Linked DNA regions of Homo sapiens. Changing the gene in region 2 together with the main gene of any one other region gives a genetic interaction. Each region holds a gene or a part of one and is shown on either strand. Other genes may lie near its edges. The genes, in order: REV3L and COPZ1.

Region 1 (3,821 bases), on a different chromosome or scaffold from region 2:
GACAGTAGACTGAGTTATTTCTAATTGCCTAAGACACTCATTCCTGCCTTATCTGTATCTACATGGAAATTACAAGTTAACACAATTTCACCCAAAGTTTACTGTTCCTTAACTCCCATTATTTCCTCTTATTATCACTATGATGTTAAAATGGCAGCCAGATACCAGAGTGACATACCTCATACCATGGCCCATTTCTTACTTTATAAGTAAGTTCAAACTATTTCTTTGAAATATCCAGCACCAATGACAACATCCTCTAAAACCTACTTTAACCCAACCTATTTAGACTTGAATCATTTTTCACTTAGATTTTTTTTTTTTTTTAAAGAGACGGGGTCTTGCCATGTTGCCCAGACTGGTCTCAAAATCCTGGGCTCAGGCAATCTTCCTGCCTCTGCTTCCCAAAGTGCTGGGATTATAGGTGCCTGGCCCTAGATTATCTTTAATTGCGTGAATTCTAATCCAATCAAAAGCAAGATGAGAGAAAATGTAATTATAGTACCAGAGGAACTTGAAAGGTCTCATATATTCCCTCCTCCCTTTTTTGGAAATAGCATACATACGATTTTAGTATCAATTTTTATTTATGTTTGCCCTAAACTCCTTTTGCTATAATCTTTTGTTTTCTTAAAGATACAGCCCAAGTCATCATAAAACGAATCCTACTATAATCTATTCTAGATTATAGAATATTAATAATATTATTATATAAGAAGATTCTAAGCACTATTAGATACAGTAGGGTCTCAAAGATTTCTGAACTACATATGTGCAGTTCTTTTAATAATTCCTCTGAGGTTCTGTATTTTTGTCTTTCAATTATCATCAATGCCTTCCTCCAATATTCCCTCATGTTTCGGGGGGAGAGGGGGTCAGTGTGAGGTGATGAGAGCTGAAGAGTCAAGATCCAAGATCCCCAATTTTCAAATCCAGCCTCACACCAACCAACTGTAGGACACTGGACAAATCCCTGAGCCTGCTATGTAGATTTCAGTTTTCTTCATACAAAATGAGTACATTTGACTAGAATGATGCTTCTCAACCCTTTTAACATTGCAAACAAAACTTGTCAGCAAAAAAAAATTTAGCACACTGGACAACAGGAGGGCATTTGGAGGCATCTACACAGTGCCTGGTGAAAAAAAATTATCATATTTTCTAATTACAGAAGAAAAAATGTAAAGTGTTATGGTAGATATTTTTTGACACATGTAATGCTGAAAATTTTAATATGAATTTCAAAACCAAACATTTTCACATCAAGAATATTTCAAAATTAAAATCATGCTTTATTTCTGACAAACATACATGCACTATTAGGCAGTCACCTTGCAGAGCATATCAAACGCACGTGGTGAGCAGCATCCAATACAGGTGAATACAGATAGTCAGGCCTGGAGCTGGGCCACCAGAGACACCCTCCCTGCTTCCTTGTCCTCTCATTGTAAGTGGGTTGCACCTTGTGGTAGGTGGCATGTTCCTTCGGCACCGTGAATACAAACTCCAGTAACAATTCCATGATCCCTTTCCCACAAAAGGCAGCTGTACACTGTGGCTGGCTGCTGAAGTAGATTCCAAGTAGTAAGGCACACCTCATTTAATGCACTTAAAATATCAAAAGGAGCAGTATGCTGCTTTTAACTGTTGGTTGTCACTCACCATGCTATTTGTTCACAGGAACCCCAACGCCTTCCTTCAGCCCCCATTCTACTAGGACTACCCTTCTGTGAGCCATGTAACATCAACTGAAAACTTTGAATTAGAAGATCTCTAACAATAACTAAAGTTAAAAACAGTATTGCAGTAATCATTTGTTTGTAACAACTATTATGGTCTCTTATTTTTTCCTTCTTACCAATTCCTGTAAGCAAAACATAACTTAAAAATATTAACTTTGAATAGTATTACATGCACATGATTTTAAAATACTGAAAAATTACCAAACAGTATACTTTAAAAGTTAGTCCATCTTTGTCCTCTAGGCAACCACTTCTACACACTGGAGCAATTACTGTCATCAGACTCTCCCGTATCCTCCCATGCACATTACATTCTATAGCTGCCTATATATACACACACACACACACACACACACACACACACACATATGGATTTTATTATAATAAAGAATTTTATTCTAATACATAGGCATATATAGCATATAAAAATATATATTTTAACCACACGAATGGCAGCAAACTGCACATGCAGTCATGCCTCTTGCTTTTTTTCCTCATATCTTTGACATAGCACCACAGCAGTACACATAGTATTCTCTCATTATTTTTAAAGGCTGACTAGTATTCTGTTGAATATATACACCATAATTCACCTAACTACTTCCCTACTGATATGTTTAGCATGTTTCCAATCTTTTGCAGTAACAAATAATGCTGCCACAAATATTCTTAGATATTTATTTGACATATATGCAAAATCTTCTAGAGAATAAAATCCTATAATGGAATTACTAGAACGAAATAAATCTGTGTTTTAATTTTTGAAAACCATTTTCAAACTGCTTTCTATAGAGTATGAATACTTTATAATCCCACCAGCAATGTATAAGGCTGACCATTTTCTCTTCTCACCTTTCCCGAGTTATACTATACATAACCTTTGCTCATTTGATAGGTGACAAAGAGTATGTTGTAGCTTGAATTTACATCTTTATTATATTATAAATAAAGTTGTACATTTTTTCATATGAATTCTCTTTGCTAATTTTTCTACTGGATTATTTTCTAGTTCTTTGTATTAAGAGGAACTTAGCCCTTTGTGAAGTATACAAATAAGTTTTACTAGTCTGTTTCTCTTTTAACTTTGTTTGATTTTTTCCCCTGTACAGAATTTTATTTTTATGTCCTAAAATCCAGCAACCCAGTATGCTATTAAAGGACTTCACCAATCCTGGATTACGTAAAAAATAATTACCCTACCTTTTTTGTTTCTTTGTTTCATATTTAAATCTTTAACTCCTCTGGAAGCCAACATTATTTTTCCAGATGACTAACTGGCTATCCCAACACTGTTTATTAAACAATTCTTCTTTTCCCTACTCATAAATGAAGGTGGGATCCATTTTCATATACAAGTTGAATACCCCTTATCTGAAATGCTTGGGACCAGAAGTGTTTCAGATTTTAGAATATTTGCACATACATGAGATATCCTGAGGATGGGACCAAACCTGAATGTAATTTTATATAATTTTAAATAATGTTACACATGAAACAAAGTTGTTTTGATTGTTTTTGAGACAGGGACTTGCTCTGTCACCCAGGCTGGAATGCAGTCATACAATCATGGCTCACTGCAGCCTTCACCTCCTGGGCTCAAGCGATCCTCCTGCCTCAGCCTCCCAAGTAGCTGGAACCACAAACGTGTACCACCCTGCCTGGCTAACTTTTGTATTTTTTTGTAGAGATAGCGTCTTTCCATGTTGCCCAGGCTGGTCTTGAACTCCTGGGCTGAAGCAATCCTCCCACCTTAGCCTCCCAAAGTGTTGGGATTACAGACATGAGCCACTGCATCCAGCCTGAAACGAAGTTTTGACTGCGACCCATCATGAGGTCAGGTGTGGAATTTTCTACTTGTGGCATCATGTTGGTGTTCAAAACATTTCAGATTTTGAAGGATTTCAGATTATGGAGTTTTAGATAAGGGATGCTCAACCTATATTAAGCTCTCATATATATTTAAGTTAATTCTAGTCTTTACTCTGTTTTAGTGCTGTCATGTGCCAAAACCATGTTACTTTTCAAAACATTTTAAAATTAAAACCACTTTACATACAAGTAAGAATAATACAACCAGAA
Region 2 (3,821 bases):
AGAGCTGGAAGCCAGAATGATTAGTGACTATGTTTTGCCCTGGGATCTTGGATTTCTCTCCTTCAAGGCATGGGGCAAGGGAGAAATACTGACATGGAAAAGGAAGGATTGTAGAGGCAGAGAATGGGCAGTGAGTAATCCAAGAAAAATAAATAAAAGACCCTGCCATAAGCAACCCCACCTCACATTTCCAAGACTGTCTGAAGGCAGAAGCCTACCAGCCCTACAGTGAGGCTCTGCAGCTGTCTGCAATCTAGACCTCTCCTAAAACCATTCTCATCAAGTGTTTCCTAGGAGCTACCCCATGTCAGGAAGCAGTGCCAGAGAACACAAAAAACACTAGAAGCACAGAACACTTCCATAGACCCTCACTCACTGTATGAAGCTGAGGAATGGGGAAAGGCTACAAAAACCTCCTCCAAAGAAAGGCAAACCCTGCCCTATGATCTATCTTAGCTTTCTTTTCTGCAAGCTGAAAGAAGCATCCAGCATACCACTGAGCCCATTCCCAGGCTCTCCCTGGCAAAGGGGGCGGAGATGCAGGCTGCTAAATCGCTAGCTCTTTAGGGGCTAATCCGTCGCAGTCAGCTGAAGACCCATGACAGGTCTGGCATTTAGTAACTGGATAACTGTTTCAAAAGGTGTCCTGCATAGTTACATCCAATTACAGGGAGGAACAGCTGGTGAATTCTAAACTAATCTCTACCTGCTGATTGATTTATGCTACGCTCGCCCGGAGTTAATACACCAGGGACAGAAGAAATTTCTACAGGAGGGGGAGAATATGGAGGGAGAGAGGGTGTCCTTTCTTCTTTCTTCCAACAGATCTAAAGTTGGAAACATCACTCTGGGAAAGTCAGGAGGTAACAAGCTTGATGGTGACTATAAACCTAGGAATGGAAACCTGGAACTGCAAGACAATTCTCTGGAAAAACCCAGGCAGGGTGACATGGTATGAGGGAAGGGGACAGGAATGATGGACATGGGCGGACTGCCTCTTAGCATCTACATACTGCTTTGTTAGGAACCAAAGTTTCAAAGCTTTTCCCTGATCTGATGCTGACAACAAAGGAGGTCAAAGTCTGAGGACAGCAAGCAGGGCAGCAGTACAACTAAGGGACAAAAGAAAACAGGTTTTATCTGGAGTAGGCAAGATAAGATGGAAGAATTCAGGCCGGGTGTGGTGGCTCACACCTGTAATCCCAACACTTTGGGAGGCCAAGGCGGGCGAATCATGAGGTCAGGAGTTTGAGACCAGTCTGGCCAACCTGCTGAAACCCTGTCTCTACTAAAGATACAAAAAATTAGCCGGGGGTGGTAGCGCGTGCCTGTAATCCCAGCTACTTGGGAGGCTGAGGCTGCAGTGAGCCAAGGTCACGCCATTGCACTCCAGCCTGGGTGATAAGAGCGAAACTCCATCTCAAAAAAAAAAGATGGAAGTATTCTCAAAATTATACTACTGAGGAACATAAGTTAATAAGGTATCAGTCCCAAGATTCAAATCTCAGAATAAACCTTTGTGCTGTTCCTAAACTAATTCGAAAGGGAATCTCACCTTGGCAAAAAGTCGATCTCCATCATTGTCCAGAATCAGGATGGCTTTGACAGTATACAGGGAAGGTTCCTGAAGAGATACGAACATACCTTCAGTCCTGAAGCCTCCCATCACCACTGGTAAACCAGATACCTTCCCCTAGTCCCACTGGGGCTGCAAGGGGATACAGAGGTACCTCTGTAAGTCCCTTACCTCAACTTGGTCAGATTTTGATATTTCCCATTGAGAAAGACCCAGGGTAAGTAAACTGAATTGACAGAGAAAGCATTTAAACAAAGGATTCCAAAGTACCATCAGAGAAACAGTTTCTCTGACTCACAGGGGGCTTAATCAAGAGAGGTCATGCTGTTATTTCCAAATATTATGGTACAGTTATTTTCCAAATTACCCTCTCCCTTCCTGCTCTCCCATGTACAGGTGGCTATAGAATGTGACCAGATTAATTAAAAGGCACTGAACAAAGCCATTTGAAAATAGGGTTGAATGTCCTAGTATACTTGGAAGTTTCTGCAGTCCGAATGCAGTAGCAATGCAGAAGCATAAAGCAAGCCTTCCCTAAACCACCCACACACTAAGCAGAGGGAAAAGAGCGTTTACACACACACACACACACACACACACACACACACACACACGCACAGGCACACCAGTTCTCAATGCAGCCTAGTAAAACAGCCATCTTCAAAAACTCTCCTATGTTCTCCAATTCTTCCACTATACCTTAACCACTACCACTTAACTTCCAAGGACAAAAGCCAACCTGAATTTTGGGGGAGTTAAGAAGCAGTGAGAAGATGATCTATCTGAGAAACACTCTGGGGCCTAGAGTGAGTGAGCAAGAGGGTAATTTTTTTTCCACTACCAAGAATCAAATAAGGAATCACGGCCTCAGTCTTAATGGTTCTTCTTCAACTGTAAGTATATCACTTGCAAAACCTGTGGTGGTCTGTTGCTCTCCTCTACCACTGCAACTTCAAGGGAGCCAGCTAACTAGGAGAAGGAAAATCGCAGGAGGCTGAGGCAGGAGGATTGCTTAAGGCCAGTTCAAGACCAGCCTGGGAAACACAGGGAGACCCCCCATCTCTACAAAAATAAAAAAAATTAGCCAGGTGTGGTGGCGTGCATCTATAGTCCTAGCTACTCAGGAGGCTGAGGTGATAGGATCTCTTGAGCCCAGGAGTTTAAGACCACGCTGAGCTAGGACTGCGCCACTGCACTCCAGGCTGGGTGACAGAGTGAAACCCCATCTCTAATTGATTGAATAGAAAAAACCAAAAGTGTGGAGAGATAGTGATGTGTGCATGAAAGGTATTTGCAGCCTCACATTCCTTGACTTTCTTTTTTTTTTTTTTTTTTTTAAGAGAAAAGGTGTCACTGTATTGTTCAGGCTGGTCTTGAACTCCTAGGCTCAAACAATCCTCCCACCTAGGCCTCCCAAAGTGCAAGTGTGAGCCACTGCGCCCGACCTACATTCCTTGACTTTCTAATCAACATTACTTACCATTGATATCCCTTGTGCTGAGACAAGGCTGTTGCTTTGCTACCTCTTTCCTGGCCTTATTTAAGAAACCCACAGTCCTCACAGGAGCCAAACACAAAAGTATGTGTTTGACAGATATCCAAGAGTGAGGAGGAAAAAATCATTGCCAAGAACCCAGAAACTGCAGCCTCTACAAACATAAATTGCCTCATGAGGCTTCAGGAGGTTTATGGTTCCATGCAAAGAATCAACCCTGTTTGCGGGGGCAGAGGAGGGCAGTTCAGAATGGAAGTAAAAGGAACCCAGTCTTTTGACAACAAGGTGATGAGGAACATAAGCTTTCCCTACTTGAATTCTTGAGGACTGCAATTTTTGTTTTGTTCGCTGGTTTGTCCCATTTGTCCAGAACAATGCCTGACACATACTAAACTCTCAATATTTGGTGAATAATTCAGAGAATAAAGGAAGTTTGAGAATAAAGTTAAAATACCTTGACGCAGTATGCATCTAAGGGACTACTTATAATTAGACCTCCACATATAAGTGGATTTTCTGATGTGGCCACTTTGGGTGATATTACTACCAACTTTATCCCTCCTCTGATAAACACTCCTTAGAGATGTCCATCCTGTATATATAACACTCTGGAATAAACAAGGCATGAGTAACTCCTCTCTCAAACTAAAGAACTTTGTTGCCTAGTGGAGGGAAGTCCTCTAGAGTCTAGTCTTAAAAGGTCACAAGTAGAAGCAGCTCTCCTAACTCCTAATTCCTCACAGAAAGATC

What was found.
Region 1: changes in COPZ1 (region 2) and REV3L impair growth when combined (synthetic growth defect), as found in Homo sapiens cells (one large-scale study listed by BioGRID).

What each region holds. Positions count from the first base shown.
Region 1 is NC_000006.12:111,472,915-111,476,735, forward strand, and holds part of REV3L (DNA polymerase zeta catalytic subunit), read right to left. Parts: exon of another isoform or gene 1,332-3,821; intron 1-1,331. UniProt on the Homo sapiens protein: Catalytic subunit of the DNA polymerase zeta complex, an error-prone polymerase specialized in translesion DNA synthesis (TLS). Lacks an intrinsic 3'-5' exonuclease activity and thus has no proofreading function.
Region 2 is NC_000012.12:54,338,350-54,342,170, reverse strand, and holds part of COPZ1 (coatomer subunit zeta-1), read right to left. Parts: intron 1,709-3,821; exon of another isoform or gene 1,667-1,708; coding exon of another isoform or gene 1,625-1,666; coding exon 1,556-1,624; intron 1-1,555. UniProt on the Homo sapiens protein: The coatomer is a cytosolic protein complex that binds to dilysine motifs and reversibly associates with Golgi non-clathrin-coated vesicles, which further mediate biosynthetic protein transport from the ER, via the Golgi up to the trans Golgi network.